Linked DNA regions of Homo sapiens: region 2 is linked to region 1. A link means that fine-mapping ties the variant in region 1 to the plasma level of a protein whose gene starts in the linked region. Region 1 holds a variant in brackets. A gene starts in the other region. All regions are shown on their reverse strands.

Region 1 (8,000 bases):
AGGCGGGCGTGGGGGCGCCAAGCCTGGCGAGCCAGCCCAGCAGGGCCGCACCGGAAAGCTGCTTCACGTCGGCCCTCGGCCAGCGATGGAGTCGCGGCGCTTTCTTCGCTGCTCTGTTGCCCCGAGCCGTGAGCCAGGGTGTCGGGGGGAGCATTTGCTATTAAGAACAGGAAACCCATCCTCTCCATCCTCCTTGTGTTCTGAGTTTAGCTCCTAGGAAATGCTCTGAAACTAGAGGACCGGGTCAGATTCACAGCGGTTACTTTTGCTGGTCTCCTTCCTTTTAATAAGAGTGACAGCTAACATGTACTAAGCACTTACCATGTTACGAGCCGTGCAGTTAACGCTTTGCATGCATGTCGCCTTTTAATCCTTCCCACATCAGTTTTCAGTTTCCGATTTGATAAGCGAGTATTGGATTTGCAGATTAGTTCAATGACTTGCCCAAGGTCACACAGCAGAGTCAGGATTCCAACCCGGGTGTGTCTGTCATTATATCTCTAAACCACTTCTCTGTTTTGTTTTTCTTACTATCGGTCTTTCTCAGGCATGTACGATTATGCTTAATCAGAGATACTTAGTTTTTCTTTTTCCTGTATGTTGTGTGAAATGTTTAGACTTTGGCCTTGTGTTGAAATACTGAACAAAAAAAAAAATGCATGGAATATTGCATAAACTTTTCATGGAATGCCTTTCAAGAGATGCTTTCCAAAAGGTGTATCATCCAAACTTGAAAGTATTACTTGAGTCCCTTCGTTATATGACAAGTATGTTAGGTGTTGTGGAGATGAAACGAGAGGTAATACACAATCTGATAATTGAGGTTTACTGTCTAGGCGGGGCTGCTGAGAATATAACTAAACGTAAATCAACTGCAGAGGCGGTTGATTTAGGGCCAGATAAATGAATGCTGTTGTGGCTCTTCAGAGGCAGAGGTTGTTTAAGGGTCAGAGGATTTGGGAAAAAGCCTTTCAGGTAGATCAGGAGACATCTAAAAGCACATATTTAGGATATGGTTGTGGGACATAAGGCCTAGGAGGTATATTGGGTCTAAGTTGCTGGGAAACTGGCATCTCTTGCCAGTGGGTTTGGGTTTTTCCTGTGGATTGCCAAGAAACAGTTTTAGGTTTCAGGTAATTGCCTAAAGAAATCTATGCTTGGAAGATTAATTTGTCCACTGGTAGCAGCATGGATTAAAAGAGGAAGAGACTGAGTGCGTGCCCACCATATAGGAGAGAACTTTTCTGTAAAAATAAACCATAGTCACTGGTTGTTCTCGAAGCCATTCTAGCTGAGTTGACACAAGGGTAAGTGTGCCAGCCTTTGATGGAAAGCTGAGCTATTTTTTCAGAGACATTAGCCCTACTCTCTGTGCCAAATCCGGTGTTTCAGGGAGAATGGTGAATAGAAGAGGGAGGATACTGATCTTCTGTCGACATTCACATCGTGCCTCTGCATGAGATGAGTCATCAGACTTCACTGATAGCTCTGAACAGTCAGCGTGGTTTTTTGTTTGTTTTTTTTTTGTTTGTTTTGTTTTGTTTTTTGTTTTTCAGAAAAGCGTCGGGAGAGGGCCCAGAGATGGTGTAGATATAGCAATAATGCCTCTCCAAATTACGTAAATTTTATTTGTAGGGAAACACTGGGCTTTCCATAATTCCATGTAGTACGAGTTGTTCTGAAGAGTAAATCCTCTAAGTTCCAACAAAAAGCTTTATATTTGAGATGTGAAGAGTTTATCCTAGGCAAATGAAACATTAATAAACATAACTGAGTAGGGGAAAGTGGTTTTTAGCCATATTTATGAAAAAAAGGTTACTAAAGAAATTATTTAGAGACTAGGAGTCAGAACAGTTAAAATGTAAATTTTTAACAATATTAATTCCAGCCTTTGAGCTAATAGTTTATCTTTTAAACTTTCTGTAGTAGAGCAATAAAGTGGGTTGTGCTGCATGCCAAGTGATAGCCATACTGTCAGAGTTGGAAATACAAACAATTTGATGCAGAATATTTTTGTCATCCATTTAGATAGCTCTTTTTTTATCTCAGTGAAACTTACATGTTCCAAGGAAAATTTGTATGAAGTGTTAGACCATTGGCTATTTACATATAAGTTGAAGTAATTCTGTTTTTGACAAAGTTTTATATCTAGGAAGTTGTAATAATAAATAGAAAGTCCAAGGCAGTTACCATATTGAAAATCATTTTTATTTTCTGTCAGGGGCCTGGCTAGAGGTGGTTTGACTTAAATAATGATATGCAAAGGAAAACAAATGATTATTTCGTAATGACATTTTATCGATTTAGAAGTTTATTTGGGGCATTTAAAAATACATGAACTGGGAGGTGAGAAATGAGATTCAGTAATTCTTTATTGTTAGTCTAGGCCAGGGTCTCCCAACCTCAGCACTGGACTTTTGGGCTGGAGAATTCTTTGGGTGGGATTGTCTCGTGCATTGTAGGATATTTAGCTGCATCCCTGGCCTCTACCCACTAGATGCCAGTAGGACTCCCTTAGTTATTGCAACCAATATCCCCTGAGGGGCAAAATCACCTGTGGTTGAGAGTCACTGGTCTAGGATAGGAAATTTACTCATAGTTTGTATGAAAAGGACAGACTCACAGTTAGTACAATAGCATATGTATTGTGTAGCGTTTTCTAATTTTCTTTGCTGTCATTGGTAACATCTGGTTTTCTAAGACATTCTTTTAAAATGTTTTATGCTTCATGCAAACTTTATTTTTAAATTTAAAATTAAGCAAAATAGTATGCAAATGATTGCAAAATTTTCTTTGTTTCTTTCTTTTGAGATGGAGTCTTGCTCTGTCGCCCAGGCTGGAGTGCAATAGCACAATCTCAGCTCACTGCAACCTCCACCTCCTGGGTTCAAGCGATTCTCCTGCCTCAGCCTCCCCAGTAGCTGGGATTACAGGCACCTACAACCACACCCGGCTAACTTTTGTGTTTTTAGTAGAGATGGGGTTGCAACATGTTGGCCAGGCTGGTCTTGAACTCCTGACCTCAAGTGATCTGCCTGCCTCGTCCTCCCAAAGTGCTGGGATTACAGGTGTGAGCCACCACACCTGGCCTTCATTTTAAGATAATGTAGCGACTGCCAGGGAAATGTTGTCACTAGAAAAATGCTGTGAAATTCTTCCTGCTAGGTTATCTTTCTCTCAGTTTTAATTAACAGATCTTGCCTGCTTTGTTTCTTTTCTTACTTATGTAGGAACTGATTGAAGTTGAGAGTTTGAGAGAACGTTAGAGGTTGACTTGTTGAAGCCTATCATTTTGCAGATGAGGAAACTAAAATTTAATTGGGCAGAATGAGTTGTCTAAGGTGTTAAAATTAGTTACTGGTGAGGGAGAAGAGAAAAATCTCCCATATAGAAGAATTTTAAATAACTTACATTTCCTCTTCAAGGGAGTGGAGCATAACTCATCACCCCTGAAGTGGAGGCTACACCTAGTGATTTGCTTCCGAAGGGTACAATGTGAAAAGGAGGGGGGAAAGGAACTTTACAGCGGAAAAACCTGACACACACTGCTGTAGCCAGGTGATCAAGGTTAACAGCAGGAATAGTTCATAATATATAGGCTGGATATGTAATAAAAACAGCACATTGGCAACAGACCCCATTTCTAAAAAGGAAAAGAATAACAACACTTCACTTCTGTGGTCTTCCTCCCTAAAACACGTATCCTCAGTCTAATCATGGGAATTACATCAAACAAAACCCAGTTGAGGGATACTCTACAAAAGGCCTGACCAGTACTCCTCAAAACTCAGAAACAAGCAAAGTCTGAAAACCCCCCTAGCCCAGAGGAGGGTAGGGGGACCTGATAACTAAATGTAAAGTGGGATCCTGGAACGCAAAAAGACTAGATAAAAACTAAGGGAATCCATTTAAAATATGAAGCTTAGTTAGAGTAATGTACCAAGACTGATTCCTTCGTTGTGGCAAATGTACCATACTAATATAAATTAACTATAGGGGAAAAGGATGTGTGACACACGGGAGCATTCTGTACTATCTTTACACTTCTCTGTAAATGTTAAACTATTCTAAAATTCACAGTTGACTTAAAAAAAAAAAATAGCTACTGACAGAGCCCAGCACGGACCCCAGTCCTCTGGCTCCCTCTTCACGGTGCTGTAGAGTTTACCAAATGCATGTGGTTTTAGAAGTACCCCTCTTTTGAAGAAGGAATTACATGTTTGAAAGGTTTTCATTCATCTTTTTTTTTTTCTTACAATATTCTACTTTTATAGCAGAGAGTGAGGAAGAAGAT[G/A]AAATGGAAGTTGAAGACCAGGATAGTAAAGAAGCCAAAAAACCAAACATCATAAATTTTGACACCAGTCTGCCGACATCACATACAGTATGTAATTTAGTGACAGATCTAATATAATAGATATACATTTAAATGTAGATAAAAGTTCATAAAAACAAGTGACTGATATTTGTATTACTAGATATCAGAAATTGTGGATGAGGACATGGGCTATTTGCCAGTAGATAAACATTTAACTGTAATTTTTAAGAAGCTTAATACTATGTTGTGGTAGAATTGTTTGAGGAATTGTTGCTCTTTATACTCTTTCTGGTAATTGAGCTATTAAATACTTCTCTGTACTTCTAGGTACTAGAGTGTTATTGAACATACTAACATTTTATACTTACTGTTTGTGATATGTGGGCATAGAGATATTTCTTGGTAAAAATAATACTTTGTACTAAAAAAATTCTTGAATTTCTGTGTTTGTGATATATTCATAAAAGATTAGAAATTCTTCTAAGAGTTAAAGTTAGATTAAAAATTATATTTTAACATGGGATGCTTATATACCACGTTTATTAAGTGTTTGTAACCCCATTTGTATTTTTTTCTTTTTTTTTGAGACAGAGTGTTGCTCTGTCGCCCAAGCTCGAGTGAGTGCAGTGGCACAATCTCAGCTCACTGCAGCCTCCACCTTCCAGGTTCAAGTGATTCCCCTGCCTCAGCCTCCCGATTAGCTGGGATTACAGGTGTCCACCACCACACCTGGCTAATTTTTGTATTTTTAGTAGCAACAGGGTTCCACCATGTTGGCCAGGTTGGTCTTGAACTCCTGACCTCAGGTGATCCGCCTACCTCGGCCTCCCAAAGTGCTGGAATTACAGGTGTGAGCCACTGTGCCCGGCCTGTATTTCTTTTAATGTGATTTGCTCTTTAGTCTGTTGAGCTTACATTTTTATTACATATCGATCATGACACTATACCTATATATGTTTTTATATAGTACCTAGGTGCTGATATGGAAGAATTTCATGGCAGGACTTTGCACGATGACGACAGCTGTCAGGTGATTCCAGTTCTTCCACAAGTGATGATGATCCTGATTCCCGGACAGACATTACCTCTTCAGCTTTTTCACCCTCAAGAAGTCAGTATGGTGCGGAATTTAATTCAGAAAGATAGAACCTTTGCTGTTCTTGCATACAGGTAAAATATTAGAGTCCATTTGCTTAATACATTCCCTCTCATGGGTAATTGCAGTGGTCAGTGTTGAAGCCAAAGCAGGCTGTTATTTCGCATGTACAGGAGAGGTTGGGTAAGAATGTGAGGTTAGGAATTTGGTTAAGTAGAAGTTTGATAGTGCAAGTTGGAGTATTTTTGTTCATTTCATTACCATCTAACTCAGCTCTTCACCTTCATACACAATTTAACTTTCTGGTATTTGAAAAATTTTTAATCATTTATATTTGATGAAAAACATTTCTGGAATCTTAGTTTCAATAACTGTCTTCATTATAGAGAAGTAGTGCTTTTTTATTTTAACGTAAAGGATTACTTTTCCAAAAGAGTGGTCTTTTCTTTCCCTCTCTCTCAAAATTCATAGGTTGTACCACTTTAAATTGAAGCTGAATTTTAAGTATCCCATGGCAAATAAAGGAAATCTGCGGTAGAGGCAGGAAATACATACAGGAAGCTCCCACCCCAGTACAGTGCTGCCAGTAAGCAGCAGAAATGATAAGTCATTTGACAGAGTGAAAGAATGTTTGGTTTGGGAAATGAGTTTAAACCCCTGTAAGTTCTAAATTATTTTCAGTGACTAGAAATCTATTATTTTCCTAAAGTTCTCTAATTGTACTTCCTGAGTCCTTCTTGTATATCCCCCATGTGATTTAAAAATAAATAAAATTGGCCGGGCATGGTAGCTCACGCCTATACTCCCAGCACTTTGGGAGGCCGAGGCGGGTGGATCACCTGAGGTCGGGAGTTTGAGACCAGCCTGACCAACATGGTGAAACCCCGTCTCTACTAAAAATACAAAAATTAGCCAGGCGTGGTGGTATGTGCCTGTAATCCCAGCTACTCAGGCAGCTGGGGCAGGAGAATCACTTGAACCTGGGAGGCAGAGGCTGCAGCAAGCCGAGCTCATGCCACTGCTCTCTAGTCTGGGCAACGCAGCGAGACTCCATCTCAAACAAATAAATAAATAAATAAAATTATCCTAGCTTTGTAGTAAGGGTTGATTCTATAAATTGTTTACCTGTATTTATTGCTTTGCCTACTTTGCATATATTTAAAACTCAAATGTTCAAAATTCTTTCCTTTTAAAATTTTCTTGGAAGCAATGTACAGGAAAGGGAAGCACAGTTTGGAACAACAGCAGAGATATATGCCTATCGAGAAGAACAGGATTTTGGAATTGAGATAGTGAAAGTGAAAGCAATTGGAAGACAAAGGTTCAAAGTCCTTGAGCTAAGAACACAGTCAGATGGGTAAGAAATAACATATACCTTAATGCTCTTTGAATGTTTCCTAATGAAATAGTTTTCTTGTACTTTTTCTGTTCTACTGAGCCTTCATATTTTGTAACTTTTAACTAGTTGTTCTCTTTCCCTTCTAAGGTATAGCCCAGTGGTTTCCAACCTTGCTATGCATCAGAATCACCTGGGAAGCTTTTAAAACTATAGAAGCTTGAGTTCCAACCTCATCTCCCATCTCCAGAGAGTGATGAGGCTGCAGCATCTTTTAAAAATGATTTTCAGGTGATTCTAATGTCTCTCCAGGTTTGAGAACAATCATGTAAATCCAAAGGGAAGTGTTGTTTGGGATTTGGCTTCTTTAGGATTGAAGGCCTCTCGGAGCATAAGAGGATAGGGAGACCAGAGGCTTGTGAGCTGTTCGTGTGCTCACCAGGACAGCTGTGGTTTTTGTAGCATTGCTATGATGTTTGAAAGCCACACTGGTTACATCTGCCTACTGCTCCAGCTGAGCTATAAAAGCCATTTATATTTCGTGTCCCTCTCCAGTGTGAATTTTATATCACCCAGAAATGCTATTTACATAATAAATGATCAATAAATACTTGTAGTCTATGTGCCTTGTGACATTTAGAAATTCCCTGAGTATACTGTTTCAGCAGTAATTCATTTTGACAAAGCTGTCATGGCTGGGTTTTGCACAAATTCAAGGGATACACATTAAAACAGACACAAAAAAGTCCAGTTTATTTTATCCTCTTTTAAAAAGGAAACAAAGCATTTGCCTTGATCACTGGATATTACCTCTTAACGGAGTGCTTCTAAACTGTGGCATCACCCGTGAGGTCTCACAGATACACAGTCCTGGTACGCAATACAAGTACTAGTGAATTGGTTTCCAATTTATACCCACAGTTGAAAATCTCATCAGACCTCTGTGTTGCCCAGGTGGTATCTTCTGAACACATGCAAGTTCTGAGTATTTTGGGGTTTTTTTGGGCGGGGTGGGGGATTAAGACTGAAAAAACAATGTGAGCAGCATGAGGGCAGGAACGTTTTGTCTGTTTTGTTCACATGGTGGGCGTTCCTATATATTTTTGAATTATGAAAATATTGACATGTCAGGTAGCTCCTTGGAGCTAAAGAGAGCATAGAGGCATGTGAGATGGGATTGCCAGAGCTCTTAGGGTGTTTAGTTCTCCCCAGGTACTTTTCCAGAACATTCACTGTGCAAACTTTGATAGCCT
Region 2 (2,057 bases), not on the chromosome of region 1:
CTGAGAAATACCCAGGCTGGGGGATAAAGAGGGATCAGAGTTGATGGTCCCAGAATAGAGATCCTGGTTGGAAATCCTGAGGCATCCCTTGAATTAAGGCCCTGGGATGAACATCTCAAAAATCCATGGTTTTAGGATTCAGGATCCCAGCTAACGGAGTTCAGGTTGGGAGGTCTCCAGGGTGGGGAAAGGGGAGTAGAGGGATAGAGTCCTGAGTTGGAAGACTCAAATTAGAAGCCCGGCTAGCCACACCGCGTGCTCTGGAGAACTCACCCCAACCCATTCGCTTCCATGGTCAGCTGTCTGTAACTGCGAGCTCAATCCACAATTTAACCTGAATCTGAGCCTGCCCCCCAGTCCAGGCTCCGCCCCTTTCTGTAGGGAACCAAGAGCGTCGCCATGTTGAAGATCACATGATCGGACTCCAGCGACAGCTCCAGGGCTGCCCTGGCTGCTGCCCGTAGGACCCCTACCTTTTTTCACCGTAAAGTTTGCTGTAGCGACGCAACAACAAAGGCCCAAAAGAAAACTCCGCTGTAAATGTATCTTACGGTGACATGAGGAATTTGTTCTCATCTGACAGTCTGGGTATCCGGAGGCTTGGCGCAAGTCCCACTCATGATACCAACAGTCTTATCCAGCCAGGTCCATACTATAGCCTGGACCTATAGTAGGTGCAGAGGTTAGCTCTGCTCAAGACAGCCCCAGCCTTTAAGGAGCTACAAGACTGGGGAAACAGAAATCAGCAATCACATTAAAATGAATAATGATCTCCAGTGTCCTTGGGATTAGGAGTGACAAACAGAATCAACCCTAATGACTCAAGACTCCTGTCAGTGGCAGGGGAAGGGGCCATTGTCTCAAACACTTTAATCACACCACCCATAGGATAGGGAGTCCAGCAGATTCGCTGGGAGTGGGAGGAAAAACAGCAGGCCGAAGAACCAGAAAAATGACTGTTGGCAATGACCCAGGCTAGCTAGAATGGTGACTTGAATGAGGGTAGTAGCAGTAGAGATAAAATGGTAGTCACAAGGAAATGGAGAGAGGGAGATTGATCAGGTAGCAATCACCAATCTTGGGTTTGGTCGGCTGGGTTAGGGTGGCACAGAGATAAGTAATATGGTTGAGTGTGGGAGTACACAGTCCAATACAGTGAGAGCTGGGGTGCGCTTAGTCCAGAACATACGGCAAAGGCTGGCCAAAGGCGGGGAAGGGCGTGGTGGGAAGCTCTGTCCGCGGTCGCGCCAGCTGTTCCCCGGGCAGGGTCGCCTCTAGGTGCTCACCTCCGCCACTTCGCCATGGCGGGTCCTGGCCCGGGCGCGGTGCTGGAGTCCCCCCGGCAGCTGCTGGGCCGCGTGCGCTTCTTGGCAGAGGCAGCGCGGAGCCTCCGCGCCGGGCGGCCGCTGCCAGCAGCGCTGGCTTTCGTGCCGCGAGAGGTGCTCTACAAGCTTTACAAGGACCCAGCGGGACCGTCGCGCGTGCTTCTGCCGGTGTGGGAGGCAGAGGGCCTGGGGCTGCGTGTGGGCGCCGCAGGCCCAGCCCCCGGTACCGGCTCCGGGCCCCTCCGCGCCGCCCGCGACAGCATTGAGCTCCGGCGCGGCGCCTGCGTGCGCACCACGGGCGAGGAGCTGTGCAATGGCCACGGGCTCTGGGTGAAGCTGACAAAGGTGCGCTCTTCCCTGCCCAGGACCCGGTAAAAGACCCCTGGGGCCAGAGAAACCTCTGGCTGTTTGCCTTTTCTCCCCTGTATTGAGTTGGCATTGCGTTCGGCGCCCTTTGCCCTGGGCTGGGCACGACAGGCGGCTGGGCAGTTCCCTGACGGCTGTCCCCATCCTACGCGTCCCGGCAGGAGCAGCTGGCAGAGCACCTGGGCGACTGCGGGCTGCAGGAAGGCTGGCTGCTGGTGTGCCGCCCGGCGGAGGGCGGAGCCCGCCTGGTACCCATCGACACTCCCAACCACCTCCAGCGGCAGCAGCAGCTCTTTGGCGTGGATTATCGGCCGGTGCTCAGGTACTGCACTTGAAGGAGCGGGGCTGGCTGTCAGAAGGCCGGGC

Direction of the effects. Alleles are on the strand shown, and positions count from the first base shown. The strength of an association depends on the size of the effect and on how common the allele is.
In carriers of allele A in region 1, the plasma level of the protein whose gene starts at base 305 in region 2 tends to be higher than with G alone (weak association).

What was found. PIP is the posterior inclusion probability: the model's chance that the variant is causal. Protein levels are from antibody-based Olink assays in UK Biobank. Linkage for the fine-mapping came from a reference panel and not from the study's own genotypes, which makes the PIPs less certain.
Region 2: it holds the start of UROD, and the variant in region 1 is fine-mapped to the plasma level of the UROD protein (UK Biobank, PIP above 0.99).

The regions. Positions count from the first base shown.
Region 1 is chr3:3,171,544-3,179,543 of GRCh38, reverse strand. It overlaps CRBN (cereblon), which reads left to right. Exons shown (of 11, transcript NM_016302.4): 2 at 4,275-4,381; 3 at 5,283-5,485; 4 at 6,619-6,768. Among named protein-coding and RNA genes, the nearest start is that of CRBN, 4.1 kb to the left of the region's middle. The variant G/A (reference allele first, on the strand shown) is at 4,295.
Region 2 is chr1:45,010,502-45,012,558 of GRCh38, reverse strand. UROD (uroporphyrinogen decarboxylase) reads right to left here and starts at 305. Exons shown (of 10, transcript NM_000374.5): 1 at 274-305. The coding sequence starts at 293. It overlaps HECTD3 (HECT domain E3 ubiquitin protein ligase 3), which reads left to right and starts at 1,235. Exons shown (of 21, transcript NM_024602.6): 1 at 1,235-1,670; 2 at 1,853-2,013. The coding sequence starts at 1,302. RefSeq lists enhancers at 209-338, 379-428 and silencers at 1,189-1,318, 1,399-1,568.